Regions from separate parts of the Homo sapiens genome. Here region 2 is linked to region 1. Evidence: fine-mapped expression QTL. A gene starts in region 1. The other region holds a variant in brackets. All regions are shown on one strand. Distances are from middle to middle.

Region 1 (8,000 bases):
CAGGAACAATTCAAATGAAGCTGAGAAAACTCATCTAGTCCCTTGGTTAGGGTTCTAGAACTCCTCCTGTCCTAGGCTGTAGCCTTTGGCCACACACAGAGGAAGCTTCCTGGTGGATTTCAGCACCGGCAGCCTCTCCCCTCTCAGTCTCTCCCATCACCCGGTCCCTTCCCTTGGAGATGGTCCTGCTTTCCTTCTACGGACATCTAGAAGCTTAACATCTCATAGGTCCCAGGAGGAGAGATGTGGGAGGAGGAGGGGAGGCTTCAGGGAAACAAAATTTAACAACAAAGGCCCCAGAAGAAATACCAGATAACGGATAAAAACGTTCAAGAAGGCTGGGTGCAATGGCTCAAGCCTGTACTTTGGGAGGCCAAGGCAGGTGGATCACCTGAGGCCCAGAGTTTGAGACCAGCCTGGCCAATATGGAGAAACCCTATCTCTACTGTTAAAAATATATATACAAAAATTAGCTAGGCATGGTGGCACATGCCTGTAATCCCAGCTACTTGAGAGGCTGAGACATGAGAATTGCTTGAACCCAGGAAGCAGGGGTTGCAGTGAGCTGAGACTGGACCACTGTACTCTAGCCTAGGTAACAGAGCGAGATTCTGTCTAAAAAAGAAAAAAAATTACAGTAAGCTAAGGTTAATTGGCCCAACTCAGTGGCTCATGTCTGTAATCCCAGCACTTTGGGAGGCTGAGGCAAGTGGATCGCTTGAGCTCAAGTGTCCAAGACCAGCCTGGGCAACATGGTGAAACTCCATTTCTATAAATAAATTTAAAAAATAAAAAAAAATAAGCAGGCATTGTGATGTGCGCCTGTAGTCCCAGCTACTCAGGAGGCTGAATTAGGATTGCTTGAGCCCAGGAGGCAGAGGTTGCAGTGAGATCACTGCATTCCATTGCATTCCAGCCTGAGCGACAGAGCCAGACCCTGCCTCAAAAAAAAGAAAAAAGAAAGAGAAGGAAAAAGAAAAAACAAGCTCGTGAAGATAGCATGTCTTCCAATCACAAACTCACATCTTTGCTCGCCTATTTCTCACTGCAGTAGTAAAATGTCCCTTCAGGTGTACTCTGGGTTGAGTGATTTTCTCCCTCGTCAGTTTTTATCTCCATTTCATGGTTCAAGTACGAGGGAGGCGCTTGAATCAAATCTTGCTGTGAATGCACTGAGCTGTGCACGCTCTGTGTAAACATCACAGAGCAAAGCGGACATCCATTCCTCACCACTGCAGACCTGCGCCTTGCAGTGCTCGAGAAACACAGTGAGGAACTGATCTGTTTTCCTGTTGTTTTTAATTAAAGTCGCAGCTCTCTAGAGGAGCACTGTCCACCTAGGGAGGAAAGTAGGAGGCCAGTAGCAAACCCCTCCCAGAGCTGGGGACATGTATTCCCCTGGGGAACCCGGTGGCACCCGCCCTGAGGAGCGCACCACCCCGCCCAGATCCAGGTCCCGTCAGGGTGCCACCTGCTGCATGGGCCTGAGGTTCGGGGACACAGCAAAGGCACACCCCGTGCTCTTTTTGATGTCGTCCACCGTCAGGCCCTCCCAGAGCTCCCTCAGCGTCAGCTCTTTCTTCCTGTGCACGTCAAACACGGCCTTCTCGGTGATGATGCGGTCCACGCACCGCTTCCCGGTCAGCGGCATGGTGCATTTCTCCATGATCTTGGGGGTGTTGTCCTTTGTGCAGTGCTGCATGGTGACCACCACTCTGGTCTTCTGACTGGACACCAAGTCCATGGCACCGCCCATGCCTTTCACCTTCTTGCCAGGGATCATCCAGTTCGCCAGGTCGCCGTATTTGGAAACCTGCATGGCTCCAAGCATGGTTAGTTGGATGTGTCCCCCTCGGATCATGGCGAAGGAGTCGTCGCTGGCGAAGAAGCAGCCCCCGGGAAGCACCGTGACCGTCTGCTTGCCTGCATTGATGAGGTCGGCATCCACCTCATCTTCCGTGGGAAACGGGCCCAGGCCCAGGATCCCGTTCTCACTGTGAAGATGGACAGTCATGCTGGGACTGATGAAGTTGCTGGCCAGCAGGGGGATGCCTATGCCCAGATTGGCGTACATGCCGTCCTCAAATTCCAGAGCTGCGCGTCTGATGATGCGCGTCCTGGCGTCCTCTTCCTTTCCAGCGTCTCCATCTTCCTCTTTCAGGATCGTTAAGCGCTCAATTCGTTTCTCGTATTTCTGCCCCTTTATCACGCGATCTACATAAATGTTAGGAACGTGGATGTCTTCTGGGGGGAAAGCCCCCACCTCCACGATCTCTTCCACCTCCACCGCCGTGACGTCTGCAGCTTTGCACATGGGCACGTTGAAATTGCGGGCGCTTCTCCTGAAGACCACGTTTCCTGCCCGGTCGGCCTTCCACCCTTTCACCAGGGCGAAGTCTGCCCGGATGGCGCGCTCCAAAAGGAAGTGGTCGCCGTTGAACTCCCTCACCTCTCGGGGCTGGCTCATGAGCGCCAGGTGGCCGTCCGGGGTGTAGCGGATGGGGGCGCCCCCTTCCTGGACCAGGGTCCCGTAGCCCGTGGGGGTGTAGAAGGCGGGCACCCCGGCGCCCCCCGCGCGGATGCGCTCGGCCAGGGTGCCCTGGGGCGTGAGCTCCAGCTCCAGCTCTCCTGCCAGGTACTGGCTCTCGCACAGGGTGTTCTCGCCCACGTAGGAACAGACGATGCGACGGACCTGCCTGGCGGCCAGCAGGAGGCCCAGGCCGAAGTCCTCCACGCCCACGTTGCTGCTGACCACCTGCAGGTCTTTCACGCGGGTCCTGAGCAGCGCGGCGATCAGGTTCTCGGGGATCCCGCAGAGCCCGAAGCCCCCGATCATGACGGTCGCCCCGTCAGAGATGTCCTTCACCATCTCCACCGGGTCCGCGTAGAACTTGGCACGGAGCCGGGGACTGGTGGCAAAGCAGCGGGCGCAGCCCTGGGACAGCGCGAGCCCTGAGCCGCCGGCGGGGACCCCGCGCCCGAGCACTGACGCCAGGAGCCGCAGCGCCGCCATAGTCGGCCCGGGTCGGAGGCCAGGACAGGTGGTGTGAGCCCTGCGTGCGCCTCGGGCCGCGCGTCACAGAGCAGGGCGGGCGCCCGCGCCCTGACGCACTCCCTCCCAGCAGGTCTCCCCGGCCAGGCGCAGGCTCTAGGCTAGGCCCGCGACCCGCAACAGGGAGGGGGCCGGCTCCGCCCTGGGCTGGGGGCCCCCGAGTCAGTCCTCCGTGTCCAGCGCACAGGCCCGGGCGCAGGACAGAGCTGAGGTCAGGCTCCGCGAGAAGGGCACAGGCTAGGTCCCCTCCTGCCCCAGTGGAGCCTCAGACACAAACTCCAACCACCCCGCCCAAGCTTCCCCCCAGCTTCCCCAGCTCATTAAAGACACCAAGTGTCCAATGAGCAGGCGCCGCTGGGTGACACCGACGCTCATGAACACCTTCACTGGGCATCACTCTGTGCCAAGCACCCTCCTTTAATCCTGTGACAACCCGGAGAGTGAGTGCCTGCCCCACTACAGCCTCCCAGAGCTCAGGTTCACCCCTCACTGCGACAGTGGGGACAGTATCCCTCACCTCCATCAGGAAGGGTCCCTGCTCTGAAGAGGCCCCCCGTCTTGTCCTCTGCATCCCCCCGCCCTCTCCACCTCCCCCACTCCAGCTCCCTGCTCCAACTTGTGCGGAATTTTGCAGTTTTCTTCCCTCTGCACAGAATCACTGCATCACCACAGCAGCGTGCAGGCGTCTCCTCACCTGGAAAGGACCTGCCTTGTCCCGGGTTCTCTCCAGCCCCAGCCCATGTCTCTGCTCCCCTTCCCCAGCAAAGGTTCTGGAAAGAGCTGTCTCCTGCCTCCACTGCCTGTCTCCCTCCACCTCCTCAGTCAGACCCACACTCCACGGATATTTAGGTCATCAACAACCTCTGTGATGGCAAAACCCTTGGTCACTTCTCTGTTCTTGCCTTCAGTGCCCACAGCAGGACACAAATGACAAACCCTTGCTTCTGGAAACACTTTACTCTGGCGTCTAGATCACCTCATCCTCCAGGTGTCCTGCTCCCTCCCTGGCTGGTCTCTGTGGGCTCTCTGTGGCCCCTCCTTGTGAGGTCTCTGGATGTTGGAGGTCCCAGGGCTCTGGGCCAGGCCCTCTTTCTTCTCCATCACTACCCTCCTTCCCTAGATGACCTGGTCCCATCCCATGCTTTAAATCCACTTACATGCCAGCACCTCCCTCGCCTGGGTCTTCACACTCACCGGTCCCTGTAATGGCATTTCCATGAGGACCAGTGATCTCAGTAACATCCCAGGGGGGTCAGTAATATTCCAGCCAAAAGAGAACCCTTGGCCACCCACCTCAAACCTGCCCTTCATCTATCTTTTCCCCAAAAAGAAAAATCTATTGAAAAAAATCCACTGGCTCCAACCACACATCATTCAGGCTTCCTCCTGTTCCCTCACCTCCTCGCCAGCTATAAGCATGTCCTGACACTGAAATCGACTCATCTTTCTCCATCTCCACTGCTACCAACAAGTCGCTCACAGCGCCCACCTGGACCACTGTGGGGCCCCCACACGTCTCTCTGACTTCACTCTTGTCCATCTCAGTCTGCTCTCTCCACTGAAGTCAGGGGGTTCTTTATTTTATGCATATATTAAGTTTTAATTTTACAACAGTTGATAGTTACATAAAACTTTGTAAAGATAGTACAGAGGCTAAGGTGGGAGGATCGCTCGCGCCCAGGAGTTGGAGGTTACCGTCAGCTGTGATTGCGCCACTGCACTCCAGCCTGAGCAACAGAGCCAAACCCTGTCTCAAAGAAAAAAAAACTACACAAGGAGTTCCCATACACCTGGACCCAGTTTCCTCTGGGAAATGCTAATATTTTACACTAGCAGGGTACCTTTCTCATAACTAATGAACCAATACTGATACCTTATTATTAAGTAAACACCATGATCGATCTGGATTTCATAACTTCTCCCTAATGACCTTTTGCTGGTCCAGGACTCAACCCAGGACCCCACATGCACTGAGCTGGTCTTCTTAGGTGCCTCTGGGCTCCTCCAATTTCCCAACCTTCCCTTTTTTTTGATGAGCTTGGCGGTTTTGAGAAGCGCTTGTCAGGTATTCTGCGGAAAGCCCTTCTCTTTGGGTTTGTTTGACGGTTTTCTCGTGGCTGGACTGGGGTTTTGGGTTCACGGAGGGGGCCCTCTGAGGCTCAGTGGCCTTCTCCTTCCCTTTCACCCAGGGCACATGCTAGCACCGTGCCGGTCACTGCAGTGAGCCTTCCTCACCTGGCTGAGGCGCTGCGCGTCAGGTCCCCCACGCCCTGTCCACACCGCACTTTCGGGAAGCAAGTCACTGGGTGCAGCCCACGGAAGGGGTGGGGAGCTCTGCTCCACCCCGAGAGGGGGGCATCTCAGAGGGTTCTCTTTTAAAACCTGAATCAGATCCTGTCGTCCTCCACTGCTAGTAAATAAAATAAATGACGCTAAGAACCCCAGCACCTGGCCCTGGTTTACTCTGACTCAGAATGGCCCCTGGGTCCCCCGCCCTCACCGCTGCTCCATGGCGCCCCCTTGCCGGGCCTCAAACACACCCATCTCGTGCCCACTTTGGCCTCTGTATTCCTACTGCCTGGCATAAAAGAGGCTCTCCCCAGTGTCACCTGTGGAATGAACAAGGGCGTGAATCCCCATCCTGCGGAAGAGAAGACGGGGTCTGGAAAGGTAAGTCCCAGCCAAGGTCACTGAGGCAGGGCACTGCCAAGCTGGGCTTCAAACCCAGCCTCCTGGCCTCAGTGCCTGAGGGTACAGCCACTTCCCCTCCTTCCCTTCCCAGGACAGAAACTCCCAAGGTGGAGGCTGCTCCGTGGGAAGAGCCGCCTGCTTCCTGGGAAGCAGAGGGAGAGGAGGGAGCACCCCCACTAGGCCAGACCTCGTGCCCTGGACCTCAGTGACCCTTGCAGCGGGCACAGCTGGTGAGGCCGGGCACCCAGGGCCACAGGAAGCCACTACCGCTGCCTGTGCTGGCACAGAGAAGCCCCAGGGGCTGCAGAGCCCCCAGCCTCACCGTCCTCAGTCTCCACATAGAGGCGGAGTCCCAGGTCCTTGTGACGCTTCAGCAACCAGCAGTCACTGGCTGCTGTGACATCCAGCACCAGCCAGCCCTCGTCTCCAGCTCGGAGCGTCTGAAGATCCAAAAAGAACAAGTCAGACTCCCTGTGGACATGAAAGAACAATTAACCGGCGGCCGGCACAGCTGCCTCCGTGTCTCCAGGGCCCGCTGGGGGCTGTCACCGGAGTGTCTCCCACCTGACTCTGGCTGCGCCCCTTCTGAGCCTCATCTCATTGCCTCAGCCCACAGAGGTGTACACATGGGGAAACTGAGTCTCAGTGACCTGTCCAAGTCCCCACAGCCAGGATGGCAGGGCAGGGACTTGAAGTCAGGATTGTCACTGGGGCTCTTCCCACAGTGCAGGGGCCTCGGGCCAAGCATCCTTCCCATCTTTGAGGCTCTCTTTCAGCCCACCACGACTCCCTGCTGGGCTGCCTTGACCATGAGACTGTGAGGTGGGGGGTTAGGTGGGGCACCCGGGCCAAGGGGAAGGCACCTGTTGGACTGCTCCTGGACCACCTGGAACATGCTGACGTGGAGGGTCCTGTTGAGCAGGTGGATGCTGGGCACCTTGTAAATCCGGAACTCCGCAGCTGTGACCGCCTCCCCAGCCGGGATCTGGGTCAGGTCAAAGCGGAACTCCTTCCAATGGGGCTCCTGGTGGCCCAGGGCACGGTCTCGCTCCACTAGAAGACAAAGCAGCGCTGGGCTGGCACTCAGAATGGCTCGGGCTCTGGAGGGGGCAGAGCTGGTGTGAGCCACCGCCCCCAGCCACCCACCACTCAAGGTGGAGCGGACCCAGGGAGGCCTGGGTGGGGCCGGCTTCATTTAGTGCAAACGTTTGTTCCAGGCTTGGTCCCGGGGTGTAGACAGGGCCAAGAGGCCCTGCAGCCAGGCTCACCCTGAGCCCCGCAGCTGGCTGGTGCTCAGCAGGCCCCAGGCTCCAAACCCTGAACTCCCGTTGCGCCCCCTTCTCGGCCCGGCTGGTCCTGGGACTCAGAGATGAGACAGAGGAGGGAGCCTCCTCTGGGAACTTCCAGGCTAAAGGGAAGATGGACATTGGACCCAAGGCAGAAAAGGGCCCCAGCCCTGCAGGGAAACCTGGTAGACAGGAACATAACCGACATAACTGACGGCATCTCAGGGGACACAAGGCATCCAGAGCCTGCCCACTGCCTGGATGGGAGGTGCGGCAGGGGAGGGCTCAGGGCTGACAGCTGAGCTGGGCTGAGGCATGAGTGCGAATCTGCCATGGTGTCAGGGAGACGGGCCCTGCAGGGGCCGGCCAGCCAAGGCAGAGGGCCAGAGCAGAGGGGTCTGAGGGCAGGGCAGGGAAAGCAAGCACCAGGAAACAGCAGAGGGCAGGAGACCCACGTTTCCTTTCTGGAACAAGCTGGAAGAGGAAGGAGGGAAACGTGGAAAGGAACAAGAAAAACCAGGGCAGGAGTGACAACTCCCAGAGAGGCCAGTCAGGTGCTGGGGAAGTCGGAGGGTCTCACTGGGTGATGGGATCTGAGCAGGTGGCATCTGAACTGGCTTTGAAGGGTGGGATGGGTCTTGGTAGGTGGAGAAGGTGGCAGGGAGGGTGCTCTAGGGAGAGGGGACCTCGCATGCACAGGGTGGAGGCGCCCACAGGTCAGCGATGTTGGGGACGGCACATGAGCTCTGCTGCGGCCTGCCTGCTGAGGGTGCGAATCCCGGGCCAGGAGCCTGGGCTGCGCCTCTGGCCAGTGGGAAGCACAGGGGACGGGGGCAGCAGGGAGGCGGCGTGGGTGGAGGGGAATTAGAAGACACAGTGGAGGTGAGGGTAGAGGCCAGGCTGGAAGTGAGATGGGCAGCAGGGCCCCGTGGCAGGGGCTGGCCTGCCAATCAAACAAAGGCTGTAGTTGC
Region 2 (13,356 bases), 240 kb before region 1:
GAATCCCAGTTCCTGGTATTGCACAGCCTTATGTTTTCCTCTTAGGAGGTTCAACGGTGATGCCTTGATCAGGCGCAGTGGCTCACCCTGTAATCGCAGCACACGAGCCCAGAAGTTCAAGACAAGCCTGAGCAACACAGCAAAACCCTGTCTCTAAAATAAAAATTAAAACACACACACACACACACACACACACACACGTGCGCACACAATGCCTTGGTGTGAGAGGAAAGAAATTACCAAAAGCTGCTCTGAGCCTATGATAATACTTCCTTTCTGGGCAGTCAAATGGTGTTTGCTGGACACCTGGAGCCATCTCCTTGGAAAGGCCCAGGGGTGATGAGGACGCGTGGGGTGGCCTGGCCCAGCCACCCTTTATGCCGTGTGGTTCTCACAGCTGCATGTGTGGGAGGTACATGGGAAGGTGACTGCACCTGCAGCTCCTGGACTCCATCTCCTCTGCCCTTGCCCCTGCCCCTCAGGGGCTCAACTAGAGTGAGTGCTCACAGCCTACAGGGCAGCAAACAGGCACTGTGCTCTAGGGGAGGCTGTCGGTGGGCACAGAAGCAAACCAACCGTGGAGTTGACACCTCCTGTGAGGAAGAGCAGAGCAGCCGTGCCGTCAGTGGAGTGAGACTGGGCCCAGCCTCTCCACACAAGGAGGGGCACGTCAGCAGCTGGAGGAGGAATGTTCCAGAAGGAGCAAGTGCAAGGCCCTAAGACAGGAGCAGGCTGGCCCTAAGTTCAGGGCCAGCAGGGAGGAGAGGGGCTGGGTGCAGTGAAGGGGAGGAGAGTGGAGGGAGGTGATGCCGGGGTGAGCCAGGCCAGCTCCCGTAGGGCCTGGGGTTCCCTGGGAAGGAGGGTGGATTTTATTCCAAGCAACCCCAGAGGCTGTCAGAGGTCTTCAGCAAAGCAGTGTCCTGGTCTGCGTCACCCTCCAGAAGGACCTTTCTGGCTTGGGGAGGCTGATGGTCGCGGGAGTGGAAGGCAGAGGAGCAGGGGATGAGTGAGGGCTGCTGTGGTCACCTGGCAGGTGATGGCAGCTCGACTGGGCAGGTGGTCCGAGGCAGCACGGAGGTGGAGGTTGAGCCAGGGGCTGCTCTCAGGGAAGGGAGGAGGCGAAAGGAGTCATCCAGGAGGCCTCCCAGGCGGGAGCTATGATGTCAGGGCGGGAGGAATTCTATGTTCCACTGAGGCCTCATTAGACCCCCAAGTGCAGAAGTGGGAAGGGGAGCAGGATCCGCAAGTCTGGAGTTCAGAAGAGAGGTCCAAGCTGAGCCAGGGGAGTGGAGAGGTGCGGGCACATGCAGGGCCTTGAAGTGCTGAGGGCGGATGCAGTCCTCTGGGAGAAGGAGCAGCACAGGAGAGGGGGCGAGGCCTGGCCTCCCAGAGCCTGGGGAGGGAGGCCAGGGTGTGGGGAGGCAGAGCCTCTGGGGGGGTCTGAAGGGCTATAAGAAGACAGTGGTCCTTCCAGGTTCCCCCTTGGGGACCTCACTAAGGGCACAAACCTGGCCATGAGGTTCTCCTTCCCATTATCCCCAGGAGGAAGTCTGAGCCCTTGGCCTGGGACTCGAGGCCCCTCATTAGTGCCCTGCCCACCTGCCCCACACCCTGGGGCTGCCATGTATCCCTCCCTGGGCACTGTGGGCCACCACAGCTCCCGCTCCCAGAGCTCTCAGGGCTGCTCTTATTCCTGTTAATAATTCTTATTATTGTGCTGCTCCCATGTGGCTTGGAGATGGCCAGGGCAGGGAGCAGGTGGAGCTGGGGCGGGGCTAGGTGGGTCCTCAGAGGAGGCCACTGGCCTCATGCCCCTGCCTGTGCTCCCTTCCTGGCCAGGTGCACCTGATGAAGCCAAACGCAGTCCCCAAGGCGTGCTGTGCACCCACCAAGCTGAGCGCCACCTCTGTGCTCTACTATGACAGCAGCAACAACGTCATCCTGCGCAAGCACCGCAACATGGTGGTCAAGGCCTGCGGCTGCCACTGAGTCAGCCCGCCCAGCCCTACTGCAGCCACCCTTCTCATCTGGATCGGGCCCTGCAGAGGCAGAAAACCCTTAAATGCTGTCACAGCTCAAGCAGGAGTGTCAGGGGCCCTCACTCTCGGTGCCTACTTCCTGTCAGGCTTCTGGTCCTTTCTCGGTACCTCTGTGCCCCTCCCCTGGGGTTTGTGGCTGTCACTCTGCCCGACACTTTGGTGGCCTAAGGCACACAGCAGCCTCAGAGCCTGTGCTGACTGCACTGTCTGGAGTCAGCACAGAAGTCCTATCTTAGGACCTGTCAGACTGTGGCTGGCCCCGGATGGTCTGAGGTTGGCTGACCCGAGCTTTTCTCCATTCACCAGAGGGTTTAGGTGTGAGGAGAAGGGCTCTGCCTCTTCCCAGGTACAACACTGGCCATTTCTGGGCAAAATTGGACACGCTTATGTTCTCAGCACAGTGTGTTCTGGGATTCTTCTCATTTGGTCCAGGGTGCAGTTAGCATATTAGAAAAAGAATAAGCTGGACATCCCCACGAAGCCACTGGGGATTTTTTTTTTTTTTTTCCAGATAGAGTCTCACTCTGTCACCCAGGCTGGAGTGCAGTGGTGCAATCCTGGCTCACTGCAACCTCTGCCTCCCAGGTTCAAGCAATTCTCGTGCCTCAGCCTCCTGAGTAGCTGGGATTACAGGGGCCCACCACCACGCCCAGCTCATTCTTGTATTTTTAGTAGAGACGGGGTTTCACCATATCGGCCAGGCTGGTCTTGAACTCCTGACCTCAGGTGATCCACCCGCCCGGCCTCCCAAAGTGTTGGGATGACAGGCATGAGCCACCGTGCCTGGCCACTGGGGATATTTTATGTCATGTGTATTCCCTTGCCCTGGGCCTGCCCCTTCTCCTGCCTGGGAAAGAGGTATGACTCCCACAGGAGCAAAGAATCCTGGGGGCTTCCAGTTCCCTCCACCATCTCTACCATGCTGACCCATTTGGGGCTCAGCACTGAGACAGAGGCAAGACCAGCAGCTCCAACATGTAGTGTAGGCTGGCACAGAGCAAATGCCCCCGCAGCCTGCTCCCCTTGCCCATGGCTCATGTCAGTAATCAACCTACGTACCTTTCCCACTGAACCAGGACAGGGCCTCCAGGCCTCAGCACAGAACTGCAGACAGCCACCACCAGGCATTGTCAATAAGACCTCAGTTCCCCCTCCTGCCCCACTGCAGAGCAATCCATTCCATCCAAAGCAGGGTGACTGGCAGTCTCCGGCCAGGCATGGGGCAAGGGTGGGGACTGCCAGTGTTTGCTTGTGTCTAGGAGTTATGAACAAGCTGGCCACCAAAATTGGCGTCACCCTGGGTGCCCACCAGCGCTGTCCTGTGTCTTGGGTCTGTGAGTCAAAGAAAAGGTCCCTGTCCCAGGGAGTGACAGGCAGTAATTAGGCTGAGTTGGGTGGGGAGGTTTGTCTCGGCCTCCACTGTTCCCGGAAACCGCTGTTCTCCTTGGAACAGCCACTGGGAGTTGGAGTGTTTATTTGATTTCTGACTTGCTAAGCCTGTAATTTACCTGCTGGAACAGACAGAGTCCAGCTGCCCAAACCGTGTCATTAAAAGCAGATCCTGGGCCCGCCCCATCCACAGGCACAGCCTGGCAGAGTGGTTCCACCTCCCCATGGGCCCAAGGATGCGCCTCTCTGGAGTTCACGTGCTGCACCCCCAGGGAGGGGCCTGGGGAGAGCTGGTCCAGCAGCAGGGGTGGAGGCTGGGGCCACACTGCGGGACAGCAGCCCCTCCACCTGGACCAGGGAGGGCCTCCATGTGCAAGCGCAGAGGAAGAGACCCTCTCATGTACATAAAGGGTGGGCCCAGGCTGTCTGGAAGATGGTGAGTTCCCCACTAGTCTAAGGCTTCAAGCTCAGCTAGCAGAGATTGGAAGAGGCAATGGCCTGAGTGTTAGGAGACAGGTATTCTGGTTCCAACTCAGCCACTGACTTGGTGTCAGGACAAGTCCCCTTTCTTATTCACGCTTCAGTTTCTCATCTGCAACATGAGGACATAGGACTCTTTAATTCCAAAGGCTCTTCCAACCCAGAGAACCCATCTGCCCCCATGACCTTCTCCCAGAGCTTGAGACATGGCCTGAGCCCCCTGCTGCCATAGGACTTGGGGCCTATCTGCCATTGCAGGACCTGATTTAACAGCTCTCTTCTTCCAATACTGGGCAGTAGAGTTTCGGAAACTGACAAATGTGTGGTCTCTTCAGTGCCCAGTGTGTAACCTGGCATGGTTTGGGTGTGCTAGGAGTTTGTGAAATGAATGTTTTCAAGACGCAAACGCTGCTATGCCCATCAGGTGTGCACAGCAGGCCTGAGGATCATGATGAGACTCCCTTTTTATGCAGCAAAGCACAAAGTGTGACAGTCGTGGCCTTCCTGGTGGCCAGACTTCTAGCAACTTTAGCCACCCACCAAATGACATCACATACAGAAGGCCTCAGAAAGGGAGGAGGTCGTAAGGACACACAGCTGATGAAGGGTCAGTGCTCAGCTATCAAGGTCATCTTCTGGCCTGGTTGCCTCCCACAGCCCAGGATGCATTCAAGGCTGCACATCAGGAGCATAAATAAGGGTGGTCAGCTCAGGCCCACTGGCTGCAACAAGTAGCCACTGACAGGGAGTCTGGGGCCATTTGGTGCAGAACAACCCCCAACCCAGTGGCCATCTTCACAACTGCAGCACAGTGCTGGCCCTAATGCCAGGTGAGCGTGCAAAGTCCTGTTTCTTTGTCTTTACATAGGGACCGGGCGATGCGCTTTAGAGAAATTCCCTATTATTTCACAGGAAAGGAGGCTGTGAAAAGGAGAGGGCAGGTTTTGGAGCCAAGTCGACCTGGCATCAGGTCCTGGCTGCCTTTTTTTTTTTTTTTTTAAAGACATACATGGTCTTGCTTTGTCGCCCAGGCTGGAGTGCAGTGGCAGTGTCATGGCTCACTGCAGCCTCAACCTGCTGGGCTCAAGCAATCCTCCCACTTCAGCCCGAGTTGCTGGGATGACAGGCACACGCCACCATACCCAGCTAATTTTTAAATTTTTTATAGAAACCAGGTCTCACTATGTTGCCCAGGCCGGTCTTAAACTTTGCCCAGGCCAGTCTTGAACTCCTGAGCTCAAGCAATCCTCCTGCCTCAGCCTCCCAAAGTGCTAGGATTACAGGCGTGAGCCACTTACCCGGCCTCTGCCTCTTGTTAATTTGACCACATCATGTACCTGCTGTGCCCGTTCCTTCCTCCGTAGAAGAGGGTGCTGGTCCTGCCCTTTTGAGGCCTCCATGAGGGCCAAATGTGCCATGGGACACTTAGTGCCATGCCTGCGCAGACCTGTGGAATAAACAGCAATTCTGAGCAGGCTCATTTTAAAGGGACTTGCAAATTTGGGCGTTCCTTGTGTGCCTTCCTCATAAAACCCACTCCTCCCAGAATATGCTTAGAGGTGCTGCTGTATTTACCTGAGAGCTATGCTTTTCATCAAAAACCTAAACGTGATCATCTCTTGGATGAGGTGTGGCCCTGCACACTCGCCTGCTCGTGGAAGGAGTCTGGGCCAGCAGTGACCCACGCGCTAGGGTCTCTGCTGAGGAAGTGGCAGGTGTG[C/T]GGCCCTGCCCTGGCCCCGTAGTGAGTGTGGGGCCCACCTGTGCCCTCATGGGCAGCTGAAGGGGGAGCTTTCTACCCCAGGTTCCTTTCCTTACTGAAAAGTCTTGAGCAAACAGTTGCCGCTCTCCACCCCCTGCTTTTTAAAAAAAATTTTTTCTCACGTAAGAAAATGTTATCTGTGTGCTGGGGAAAATTTTGAAAATAACAAAAACCAGAATACAAACACCCATAATCAATCACAGAGATAACCACTGTTCATAATTCCTTCCAGTCTTCTTACTTGGCACATATACATTTGTCTTTCTTTATATATGACATATGGATATTTTACAAAGTTAGGATCCTACTCTATGCACTGCTTGGTGATCGGATCTATTCAATGTACAAAATATTTTGAAAGTTTCTGTGATTAAATGTTCTTTGAAAACATAACTTTTAGCAGCCTTCCATCCCTTCAGTTCTGCTTTAGCTTCTCCCTTGTATGTCTGGTCTTGCGTTCCCTTCCTCAGAGGCCGGGATGGGGCTCCTGTGACCAGGGTGGCAGGCAGCCTAGTGCTGAGATCGCATGGCCACGAGGCTGGCCATGGGTCTGGAATCCCTGGGCCAAGAACCTCCTCTCCTTCTCTGTGCAGCAATTGGCACAAGCAGGGGCAGGTGCCTCACCTCTGAGGCTTAGGTGACCTCAGAGTACAAGGGTCACAGATGGACCCACTGGGATAACTTCCGGGGAAACCCTGATGGTTCCTCTCCCACTGGCCTCTGGCTGGTCCCTTGGTCCCTCCTTCCCAGGGTAATCAGGCAAGCACAGCAATAAGGTCCTCCCTTGTTTCACAGGGTTGTGGGACCAGTTCTCCCTCCCGGGGCCTCGGGCCAGCCTGCCTGTCACCCCCAGAACCCACAGTGTTGAGCAATTCACACACATCCTCTTCTCTCCTGGGCTTCATGGCAGCCCTGAGTAGCTGCCTTATCCTGGCCTCAATGCTGCCTGTCCTGACGGCCATGACTGACCACCAGTAATGACACCGACATTGAGGAGTGAGAGTGCCTGCTGGGAAAGCTGCAGGCCCAAGCTGATCAAGCGGGGAGAAGCCCCACCCAGGGTGCCAGAGGTGGAGCTGGCTTGGGGTCACTGGGGCCAGGGCAATAGGCTTCTCCTTTCCCCACCACCCTCACCCTGGTGGATACTCAACATCAAGACTTGATTCAGCCAGCATTCTGGGAGGCCAAGGCAGGTGGATCACCTGAGGTCAGGAGTTTAAGACCAGCCTGGCCAACATGGCGAAACCCCCATCTCTACTGAAAATACAAAAATTAGCTGGGCATGGTGGCGGGTGCCTATAATCCCAGCTACTTGGGAGGCTGAGGCAGAATTGCTTGAACCTGGGAGGCAGAGGTTGTAGTGAGCTGAGATCATGCTCCAGCCTGAGTGACAAAAGCAAAACTCCATCTCAAAAAAAAAAAAAAAAAAAAAAGGCTTGATTCAGACAGAGCTCCTAGGACATGTCATGGGAGCCAGTGGGCAGCCCTGGGGGAGGTTTCTGGAGACTGATAGGGCTCAGTTTCAACACCTGAAAGAGGCCATGAGGTGGCCTGGCTGGCCCAAAATCGGTGCAGGGTGAGAGGCCATCCTAGCACAGGCTGCGCACCATGACACCACACTGCAGTTTCCAGGTAGGCCTGGGGTTGGGGAGGAGGAAGTAGGAGCCACCCCTGGCTTGTTTCTCCCCAGCACCAAGCACATCCGCTGACTAAAGAAGCGCCCTGTGTGCTCCTCGGTAATACAGTTCTGTTGGTTCAGGAAGTGCATAATGAGTGCCAGGTCAGTGAGACTGATTACAAATGTCCATCAGGCACAAGACCAGCTGGTGTGAGAGCAGGAATGGTAACTGACCAGAAAGAAAAGACACAGGCACTTTTACATGGCTTTGACTTCTACTGCCCCACAATGGGCTGCCGAGGGCATCTCCTAAGGGACTTGGCCTAAGAGAGAAGAGCAGCAGCCGAGATGCTATGGCCTGTCCCAGCAGCAACCTCTGAAAACACCTGGGACCTGGCTGGCAGGCAGCAGTATAAGAACTAGAATTTATTTTAGCAAACCAAAGAGAACAAAACATCCAGGAGCCACATTGGTGGGCCCACAGCAGACCCAGCAGCAAATGCCGAGAAAAGTGGTGGTTGGAGAAGGAGCACCTGTGCTGGTTCGTGGGCCCACAGCTGCACTTGGGAACAGTCCAGGCTGTGCCTACAGAGGTGCTCCAAGCTGACCCTAAGGTGGGCCTCATGCCACAAATCCTGCTTGCTTCAAATAGGGCACCCTCGGTGCTGCCTCCTCTGAGGCTGGCAGCTCCTTCCTGGATGTGCAGGGGCAAGAGCAGAGTGGAGAGCAGAGAGAGTGCCGCCTCACACATACTCCCCACAGTTGCCAATGATCACCTTCTGCCTTGGCTTCCCATCCTTGCCTTTGCAGACAGAATAGAAGAGGGGACACTCAGGGGAGTGAAGGAGCAGAATAAAGACAGACTTTAGGGACATCCACCCCTACCTGCCCCCTGGGGACACTGGCCCTAACAGTGGTGGAGCTCACAATCTAGTGAAATACAGCCACCCAAAAAAGATGTGGATTCATCTCAGGAATGCAAAGTTGGTTTAACATCTAAAAATCAATCAATGTAATAGACAATTATCAATAGTATAAAGAACAAAAACCACATAATCATCTCAGATACAGAAAAAGCAGTAGACAAAATCCAACACCTTTTCATAATGAAAACTCAATAAACTAGGAGTGGAAGGGGGAACTTTCTCAATCTGATAAAAGGTATCAACAGAAAACTACATGTGAAAGACAAGATGCTTTCCCCCTAAGGTCAGGAACAAGACGAGGATATCTGCCCTTGACACTTCTATTCAACATTGTACTGAAGGTTCTAGCCAGGGTAATTAGGTGAAAAAAATGAAATGAAAGGCATCCAATCGGCAAGGAAAATGTAAAGCTATTTCTATTTGCAGATGACACACTCTTGCATATAGAAAATCCTAAAAAATCCACAAAAAAAACTATTAGAACTAATAAACAGGCCGGGCATGGTGGCTCACGCCTGTAACCCCAGCACTTTGGGAGGCCAAGGTGCGCGGATCACAAGGTCAGGAAATTGAGACCATCCTGGCTAACACGGTGAAACCCCATCTCTACTAAAAATACAAAAAATTAGCCAGGCGTGGTGGCGGGCGCCTGTAGTCCCAGCTACTCAGGAGGCTGAGGCAGGAAAATGGCGTGAACCTGGGAGGTGGAGGTTGCAGTGAGCTGAGATCGTGCCACCGCACTCCAGCCTGGGCGACAGAGTGAGACTCCATCTCAAAAAAAGAAAAAAAAAAGAACTATTAAACAAGTTTAGCAATGTTGCAGAATACAAAATCAATATACAATTGATTATATATATTTTTGTAGAGATGAGGTCTCATTATGTTGACTCGGGCTGGTCTCAGACTCCTGGACTCAAGTGATTTTCCCACTTCAGTCTCCCAACGTGCTGGGATTATGAGTGTGAACCACCATGCCTGGCCTGTTTTGTGGTTTTCAAAGTATAAGCTGTATACATCTTTTAAACTTATTCCTAAATATTTTATTCTTTTTTATGCTATTGTAAGTATAATTGTTTTTCTTTTTATTCTGTTTTCAGGTTGTTCATTGCTGATGTATAGAAATATAATTGCTATATCTACGGCCAGGCACGGTGGCTCACACCCGTAATCCCAACACTTTGGGAGGCCGAGGCGGGCAGATCACAAGGTCAGGAGATCGAGACCATCCTGGCTAACATGGTGAAACCCTATCTCTACTAAAAATACAAAAAATTAGCTCGGCGTGGTGGCGGGCGCCTGTAGTCCCAGCTACTCAGGAGGCTGAGGCAGGAGAATGGCGTGGACCCGGGAGGTGGAGCTTGCAGTGAGCTGAGATGCTGCCACTGCACTCCAGCCTGGGCGACATAGCAAGACTCTGTCTCAAAAATAAGAAAAGAAATATAATTGCTATATATATATGTGTGTGTATTTTTTTTAGAAGAGTCTTGCTCTGTTGTCCAGGCTGGAGTGCAATGGTGCAGTCACAGCTGTCTACAAAAATATTTTTTAAAATTAGCCAGGTGTGGTGGTGTGTGCCTATAGTTCCAACTAGTTGTAAAGCTGAAACATAAGGACCACTTGGGTACAGGAGTTCCAAGACTGTGGTGAGCTGTGATTGCACCACTGCACTCCAGCCTGGGCAATACAGTGAGACCCTGTCTAAAAAAAAAAAAAAAAGAATGAGAGAAACTATTTGCAAATTATACATCTGATAAGAGACCTGTATCTAAAATATTTAAAGAATTCTGACTCGCTAGGCATGGTGGCTTACATCTATAATCCCAGCATTTTGGGAGGACAAGGTGGCAGGATTGCTTGAGCCCTGGAGTTCGAGACCAGCCTAGATAACATAGCAAGACCCCATCCCAATTAAAAAAAAAAAAAAAAGAAAACCAAAGAACATTACTGAAAAACACTGAAGAAGACCTAAACAAATGAAAAGATATCCTGTGTTCATGGATCAGAAGACTTAATATTGTTAAGATGATGATACTCCTAAATTCTTCACATTCAGTGCAATCTGTATTAAAATCCTAGCTGGCTTTTTTCATACGAGTTGATAAGCTTATCCCAAAATTCTTAAGAAATGTAAGAGACTCAGGATAACCAAAACAATCTTGAAAGGAAAAACAAAGTTGGAGGACTCGCATTTCCAGAATTAAAAATTTACTACAAAGCTATGGAATTTAAGACACAGTAGTAATGGCCTAATAACAGACATACAGATCAACAAAATATAATTTAGAATCCAGAAGAAACCCTTACATTTATGGTCAACTATATTCACCAAGGATACCAAGACAATTAAACAGGAAAAAAACTAGCCTTTTCAACAAATGGTGCTAGGACGACTGAAAATCCACATGTAAAAGAGTAACGCTGGACCACTTTCCTCACACTATACACAAAAATTAACTTCAAATGGAGTAAAGACTTCAGTGTAAGAGAGAAAACCATAAAATACTTAATAGAAAGTGTAGGAGTAAATCTTCATAATCACTACACCAAAAGTACAAGTGACAAAAAAAGATAAATTAGACTTTATCAAAATTAAAATATTTTGTGCTTCAAACGACGCCATCAAAAAAGTGAAAAGACAACCTATAGAATGAAAGAAAAGGCCGGGCGCAGTGGCTCACGCCTGTAATCCCAGTACTTTGGGAGGCTGAGGCGGGTGGATCACTTGAGGCTAGGAGTTTGGGACCAGCCTGGGGAACGAAGTGAGAGCCCCATCTCTACAAAAAATAAGAAAAAATTAGCCAGGCATTGTGGTGCATGCCTGTAGTTCCAGCTACTTAGGAGTCTGAGACAGAGGGATCACTTGAGCCCAGGAATTTGAGGCCACAGCAAGCTGTGACTGTGCCACTGCACTCCAGTCTGGTCAACAGAGCAAGACCCCGTCACTACAAAAATAAAAAAAGAAGGACTCTTGACTATATTTGGTCAGGTGTGGTGACTCATGCCTATAATCCCAGCACTTTGAGAAGTGAAGGCAGGCGGATCACTTGAGGCAAGCCTGGGCAACACAGGGAGACCCTGTCTCTACAAAAAATAAAATTAGCTGGGCCTGGTGGCATGCACCTGTAGTCCCAGCTACTTGAAAGGCTGAGACAGGTGGATCACTTGGGCCCAGAGGGTCAAGGCTGCAGTGAGCTGTGATCACATCACTGCACTCCAGGCTGGGTGACAGAGTGAGAACCTGTCTCAAAAAACAAAAAACAAAAGAATTCTTACTCAACAATAGAAAGACAAATAATCCAATTAAAAATTGGTAAAGGGTCTGAAGAGACATTTTTCCAAAGAAGATATAGAGAAGGCCAATAAACACATGAAAAGATGCTCAACATCATTAACTAGCACGGAAATGCCAATCAAAACCACAATGAGATACCACTTCACATCACTAGGATAGGTCTAATAAAAAAAGAAGGATAATCACAAGTGTTGGTGAGGGTATAGAGGCATCAGAAACATCATACACTGCCGTTAAGAATGCAAAATGGGGCAGTGGCTCATGCCTGTAATCCCAGCACGTTGGGAGGCCAAGGCGGGCGGATCACAAGGTCAGGAGATCAAGACCATCCTGGCTAACACGGTGAAACCATGTCTCTACTAAAAATACAAAAAAATTAGCCAGGCGTGGTGGTAGGCGCCTGTAGTCCCAGCTACTCGGGAGGCTGAGGCAGGAGAATGGCGTGAACCCGGGAGGCGGAGCTTGCAGTGGGCTGAGATTGCGCCACTGCACTCCAGCCTGGGCAACAGAGTGAGACTCCATCTCAAAAAAAAAAAAAGAATGCAAAATGGTACAGCCACTTCAAACAGTCTGGTCGTTTCTCAAAACATTAAAAATAGTTATCAGCCAGACACGGTGGCTCATGCCTGTAATCTCAGCACTTTGTGCAGATCACTTGAGGCCAGGAATTCGAGACCAGCTGGCCATCATGGCAAAGCTCCGTCTCTACTAAAAATACAAAAATTAGCCGAGTATGGAGGTGCATGCCTGTAATCCTAGCTAGGGGAGGCTGAGGCAGGAGAATCTCTTGAACCAGGGAGGTGGAGGTTGCAGTGAGCCGAGATTGTGCCACTGCACTCTAGAGTGAAATTCTGTCTCAAAAAAAAATAAATAAATAGTTATATAACCCAGCATTTCCAATTCTATGGCTACATCTAAGAGAAATGAAAACATATGTCTACACAAAAATTTGTATGTGAATGTTCACAGTGGCATTATTTGTAATAGCCAAAAAGTAGAAACAATCTATCAACTTATGAATGGATAAACAAATGTGGGGTGCAGACAGTGGGTATTAATTGGCAATAAAAAGGAATGATGGGGCCGGAGGCGGTGGCTCACGCCTGTAATCCCAACATTTTGGGAGGCCAAGGTGGGCAGATCACGAGGTCAGGAGATCGAGACCATCCTGGCTAACACGGTGAAACCCCATCTCTACTAAAAATACAAAAAATTAGCCAGGCGTGGTGGCGGGTGCCTGTGGTCCCAGCTGGGAGGCTGAGGCAGGAGAATGGTGTGAACCCAGGAGGCGGAGCTTGCAGTGAGCCGAGACTGCACCACTGCAATCCAGCCTGGGTGACAAAGTGAGACTCCATCTCAAAAAAAAAAAAAAAAAAAAAAACCAAAAACCAAAACAAAAAGAAAAAAAAGGAATGATGTACTGATACATGCTACAACATGGATGAACCTTGAAAACATTATGCTAAGTGAAAGAAGACACTCACAAAAGCCTACATATTGTATGATTCCACTTATATTAAATGCCTAGAATGGGAAAATCCATAAAGACAGAAAGTAAATTCGGGTTTCCCAGGGCAGGGGACCAACAGGATAAGTAGCAACTGCTAAAGGGTATGAAGTTTCCTTTTGGGGGATAAAATGTTCTAAAATTATTTGTGGTGATGGTTGCACAACTCTGTGAATACATTAAAAACCATTAAAATGTGTACTTTAAGTGGGCAAACTGGATGGTATGTAAATAATATCCTACTAAAGCCGTTAAAAAAAAAAGATAATTACACTACAAAATGGCAAAGCCCAGTGACAGAGACATTTGTGCATAGAATGGGAGCACTAGAGTCACCTAAGTGTTT

Evidence for each region.
Region 2: its variant is fine-mapped to the expression of OXCT2 in atrial appendage (GTEx, PIP above 0.99). The same link has a PIP of 0.9 or more in fibroblasts, left ventricle, ovary, stomach, thyroid and tibial artery.

The regions. Positions count from the first base shown.
Region 1 is chr1:39,768,243-39,776,242 of GRCh38, forward strand. OXCT2 (3-oxoacid CoA-transferase 2) reads right to left here and starts at 3,106. Exons shown (of 1, transcript NM_022120.2): 1 at 1,281-3,106. The coding sequence starts at 3,013. The coding sequence ends at 1,460. BMP8B (bone morphogenetic protein 8b) reads right to left here. Exons shown (of 7, transcript NM_001720.5): 2 at 6,607-6,796; 3 at 6,066-6,214. RefSeq lists enhancers at 2,479-3,152, 3,153-3,825 and a silencer at 3,039-3,138.
Region 2 is chr1:39,523,810-39,537,165 of GRCh38, forward strand. It overlaps BMP8A (bone morphogenetic protein 8a), which reads left to right. Exons shown (of 7, transcript NM_181809.4): 7 at 1,840-6,060. The coding sequence ends at 1,989. It also overlaps the pseudogene PPIEL. Among named protein-coding and RNA genes, the nearest start is that of PABPC4-AS1, 35 kb to the right of the region's middle. The variant C/T (reference allele first, on the strand shown) is at 5,629.